Regions from separate parts of the Homo sapiens genome. Here region 1 is linked to region 2. Evidence: fine-mapped expression QTL. Tissue or cell type: blood mononuclear cells. Region 2 holds a variant in brackets; the other region holds the start of a gene. All regions are shown on one strand. Distances are from middle to middle.

The links. PIP is the estimated chance that this variant, and not a neighbour inherited with it, causes the effect.
Region 1: SRGN starts here. The variant in region 2 is fine-mapped to the expression of SRGN in blood mononuclear cells (TOPMed, PIP above 0.99).

What each region holds. Positions count from the first base shown.
Region 1 is chr10:69,086,925-69,089,424 of GRCh38, forward strand. SRGN (serglycin) reads left to right here and starts at 1,179. Exons shown (of 3, transcript NM_002727.4): 1 at 1,179-1,312. The coding sequence starts at 1,234. RefSeq lists an enhancer at 1,310-2,500.
Region 2 is chr10:69,052,108-69,054,955 of GRCh38, forward strand. No RefSeq gene overlaps it. Among named protein-coding and RNA genes, the nearest start is that of SRGN, 35 kb to the right of the region's middle. RefSeq lists enhancers at 114-243, 384-493, 614-1,115, 1,116-1,615, 1,745-1,904 and a silencer at 2,755-2,804. The variant C/T (reference allele first, on the strand shown) is at 1,375.

The DNA.
Region 1 (2,500 bases), 35 kb after region 2:
CTGTTCCTTTATTTACATGAGGCAGAGGTTTGTGTTGTTTGCTGAGGTCCAGCAGCTCACTGTGAGGACAACCTCTCCCTCGTTCCTGATTTCTGGCTTATTCAAGGCCAGAGGACCCAAAACTCGAGTTGAAAATTTTGACTAGGAGAACAGATAAAAATAGAAATGGAATCCATCTTAAGAAATGCTCAATGTGAAGGAGAGGGGAATGCAAAATAGTTTTTCTGTTTTACCACAGTCTTTGTAACTGAAAATCCTATGTTCTTGAGATAGAGAGAGAGCCAATGATCCAATGCAAGAAACTGAGTTTAAGAAGAAACTGTTTGCTGGGCACGGTGGCTCACGCCTGTAATCCCAGCACTTTGGGAGGCTGAGGCAGGCGGATGGCCTGAGGTTGGGAGTTTGAGGCCAGCCTGGCCAACATGGTGACACGTCGTCTCTACTAAAAATACAAAATTAGTCCAGCGCAGTGGTGTACGCCTGTAATCCCAGCTACTCAGGAGGCTGAGGCAGGAGAATTGCTTGAACCCTGGAGATGGAGGTTGCAGTGAGCTGAGATCGCGCCACTGCTCTCCAGCCTGGGTGACAGAGTGAGACTCCATCTCAAAAAAAAAAAAAAAAAAAAAAAAAAGAAGAAAAAGAAGAAGAAGAAACTGTTCATCTGAAATCCGACAACTCATTCTTGAAGGTTAGAGCTCAGCTTTGAAGTTTCACTTCACGAGCTTGGCTCAGTGAGGTATGTTACTCCCCGGTGAAAAAGAAAATGAAGAGAATGTTTTATGTTGAAAGTGCTTGGTGACGAAAAGGCAGCACCTAGATCCCTTATCTCATAAAAAATGCAGCAGATTCTTAATATTAGCAATCTAGTGTTTAGATTGTTACCTGAAGAAAGGAAAAACAAACTGTCCCAAATGCTGATTCTACTGTTTCGGTGGGAAAAAAAAATGTCTTGCAGGCAAGTGGCAAACAACAAAACTTTTGAAAAAGCAGGCCTGGGGGGAGTCCAGTACAGTTTCATAATGGGTATGAATAGTTATTTTACTGTGTTCCCCCCACCCCCTTTCTTTCTGGGTTTTGATGTGGATGTCTTTCTATTTGTTCAGGAAATTGTGACGTGTGTTCTGGGCAGGGTTTGAGGTTTTGGAACATTTTCTAAAAGGGACAGAGAGCACCCTGCTACATTTCCTAATCAAGAAGTTGGCGTGCAGCTGGGAGAGCTAGACTAAGTTGGTCATGATGCAGAAGCTACTCAAATGCAGTCGGCTTGTCCTGGCTCTTGCCCTCATCCTGGTTCTGGAATCCTCAGTTCAAGGTAAGACTCAGGAGTCTTGTTCCCCAGCCATCTTCTCTGTAAGCCCTGTGGTCCATGCAAGTCATTATATTCATTTTAAGGCATAGAATGTATAATATTGTGAGAAAGGAGGCAAAGAAGAAGGATTTGGGGTCGCTGAACCCTTTAATATGAGTTCTGTTAAGTTTGGTACCAAGAAAAATTAAACTCTGTGGCGTGTGCAGTCTTGTAAACTCTTACAATGATTGAAATGTGCTATTTTGGGATGAAAATGTGAGGTTTATAAATTTTAAAAGCTCAAAAAAGGAATCTAGAAAATGACTCCTGTGCCTGTTGCATGGAGGAGATGGCACCTTTGACTGTTGGGGGGTGTCTGCCTACCCCTAAGTGTCTACATCAGCCCCAAGTTTTAGTGCGCTGTGACGGTGTCATTGTTATTTTAACACTGGGAGACGTTATATTCCAATTGGGGTGAATCTGACTGTGTGTATTTTCTTTTCTTTTTTTTTTTTTTAAAGATAAACTTGGTTCTTACTGAAAACTCAATTATGGTTAGACATAGTTCATGTAAAACCTCTCAGATTTTAAAGAGAAGGCCAAATAATTTGGTATTTGTGCTCTTGCTCAGAGAAGCATCATATTCGGAAATATCTTCCTAGGTTTATCTACCATTTAGTGTTGTTTAGTCAGACTGAAACAACTTAAAACCTGTAATGACTAAGACAATGAAAATGATAGGCTTGTAAGAAAAATACAATTTGTTATTCTTTGGCAAATAAGGAATCATGTCTAAATAAGACGGAGGTCATGGCTTGATAGAGAGATGGCTGAACCTATAGTAGAAAAACACTAGGTTCCGCCAAATGGTAAGGGAAATGTTGAGTCACAATGACACACATGTCCTAGATTTGTTTCGTCAAAGCGACTTTTGGTTGTCATGATCTTACTTCCGGTGGAGATGAAATCTTACAGATGATCGCAGAGACATTCATTTTATGTTGGAAATTTATAAAATCATTTTCTTCTAGTTATGCTAATGCTGAAAAAAGAGCAAGTAATGTTTCTGGAACGTTATTAATTTATGTATTTTTAAAATATAAAACATTGTCAATTGTAGGGAACAGGCTTCACTGGGATCTTTTAGGGAATATCTTCAGCTTGATGAAATAATTCCCGAATAGCCAAGTGGTCTGACAAGATCGAGAGTAA
Region 2 (2,848 bases):
TGATTGGTAAGTTCAAAGCACACGGAAGGGGACAGATGATGTGTCTCACCCACCATGACCTGGGCTGGGAGCTGGGTATCAGGCCTCTTGGCCCAGAGCTGCTGGTCTGGAGTGGGGAAGGTGGTGGGGAGGAGATTTCTCCCGCTTCTGGTCAAGGGTTTCACTTCCTTCAGCCTTGCTTCCCCCATTGTTCAGCTGGGGTGGAGGCTGGTTACCCCTGGCTCTGGCTGGAGCAGTCCAGTGCCATTGTCATTGTCTTTTCCATACAATAAGAACAGAATTCCGTCCTTTCTTTGCTGCTGGCTTTAAACCTCCAGGTCCTAAAGCCCCTTCTCTCACTTCTTTGTTAATCTCAGGGTGTGCCTGAGGCTTTTCACTCTGCCTCCGCTTTCACCACTGCCTGGTGGCTGGTGCGTGGGCTTCTTACCTGGCTCCCTCCTTCACCTCCTGCGAGTCTTCCTTCTTGGATGAGCGCCCCGACCACCTTACTGAAGGAACATGCACTCCTCTCCCAGCTGCCTTTGTACCTTGCTCCTTTCCCCCACGGCATGCTGTAGAATTTCCTTAGGCATTATGTGTTGTTCTGGGTCTCTGTCACCCTCACTGCTATCTACTAGATTGTAAGCTCCACGAGGGCAAAGATGGGTACTTTTTGTTCATGGATATAGCCCAAGCACCTAGAGCAATGCCTGCCACACAGTAGGTACTCAAAAAGTATTTGCGGACTGAAATGAATAAACAAGTGAATGGGTTGTAGGGTAGAATCCTAAATGGCTGAACTGGAAGACTCGCACAGGAATTCCCCTGTGCTGCCCCTACGAGGGAACTGAGATGCAGAGAACAGAAAGGAATTCTTTAGAGAATCGGATGGGAGGCTGGACACAGAGCTTGCCCTCAGGAAATTTACACGAATTGGGGGTGGGGTGGGCAGTGCCACCTCCTTGCACAACTCCAGGGGGTGTCATTTTCATTGAACACAGTATAGGTGGTGCTCCTGGAGTGGTGCCTGGCCTGGGGGTGAGGTAGTTGAGGAGAGACTGTGGCCGGACCATGGTGTGGGGCTCAGAAGAGAGAGTGCAGGTGTGACAGCTCAAAGGGCCCAACCCAAGAAAGAACATCACCAGCCCAGGGCCAGGAAGGGTGTGGTGGAGGATGGGCACCACGGTCAACACACAGAGATCCAACACACACACTCCCAACACCATCTCTGGTGTTTTCTATGCCCAGCACAAGGCCTGGCCAACCCAGTAGGTGAAGTCGCCCAAGGTGCCCAGTAGGTGAAGTCTTTTATTCTTGTTGTTGTTTTGAGACAGGGTCTTGCTCTACCGCCCAGGGTGGAGTGTAGCAATGCTGTTTGCATTGGGCTGACTGAAG[C/T]CTCAATAGGGCTCACTGAATCCTCGATCTCCCAGGCTCAAGTGATCCTCCCACCTCAGCCTCCAGAATTTCTGGAACAACAGCTGCAGGCCACTACGCCTAGCTAATTTAAAAAATTTTTTTTTATAGAGACGAGATTTCACCATCTTGCCCAGGCTGGTCTTGAACTCCTGGACTCAAGCAATTCTCCCACCTCAGCCTCCCAAAGTGCTGGGATAACAGGCATGAGCCACCGTGCTGGGCCTAGGAGGTGAAGTCTTGATGAGGGGCTGTGATGGTCTGGCTTGGGAGCAGAGCTGAGGTTTGCTCTAGCACCTGGCCCTCTTGTCCAGTGGGGCTCACTCCTCTTGACTCTGTTCCCCTTGCTGCTGGCTCTTCACTTTGCTGCCTGATAGAATCTAAAATCCCCTGGGGAATTTTAGAAAACATGGGATGCGAGGGGAGTCAGGGGGCACATCCTCGGGGATTTCCATTCAGGTGGTGAGGAGCGGGACTGGACATCCCCTCACCACGTGATACTTGTGTTAGCCAGGCTTGAGAACCCCTGCTCTAGAAGCTGTCCCGGTGACATGGAAGGACCCGGGTAAAAGATTCATAACCCTGTAGTGTTATCCACACAACTGGTGGGTTCGGCCACTTGGTGGGTATCAGTTCAATGACCGCCACCAGAGAGGATGTAGCAAGGGGATTTTATGACTTGTAACAAGTCCCAAAGCAGTGTCCCCCTGAGCCGGGGACTGGGTCACGTTTTATAAGCATAGGGTAGTGATCCGACTGGATCCTGCCATGCAGTGCCTGCTTCTTCTTTTTTTTTTTTTTTTGAGATGGAGTCTCACTGTGTCACCCAGGTTGGAGTGCAGTGGCGCAATCTCAGCTCACTGCAACCTCCACCCACCAAGCTCAAGCAATTCTTTTTTTTTTTTTTTTTTTTGAGATGGAGTCTGGCTCCGTTGCCCAGTCTGGAGTGCAGTGGCGCAATCGCGGCTCACTGCAAGCTTCGCCTCCTGGGTTCACATCATTCTCCTGCCTCAGCCTCCTGAGTAGCTGGGACTACAGGTGCCCGCCACCACGCCCGGCTAACTTTTTATACTTTTAGTAGAGATGGGGTTTCACTGTGTTAGTCAGAATGGTCTCGATCTCCTGACTTCATGATTCCCCCGCCTCGGCCTTCCAGAGTGCTGGGATTACAGGCGTGAGCCACCAAGCCCAGCCTCAAGCGATTCTTGTGCTTCAGCTAGCTGGGATTACAGACAAGCACCACCACACCTGGCTACTTTTTGTATTTTTAGTAGAGACAGGGTTTTGCCATGTGAGCCAAGCTGGTCTCGAACTCCTGGCCTCCTGTGATCCACCCACCTCAGCCTCCCGAAGTGCTGGGATTACAGGCATGAGCCACCACGCCTGGCCCAGTGTCTGATTCTTCATTCAGCCCCCACTTGGGTTCCCCTGTGGTTGCAGGCTTGGTTCATCTGCG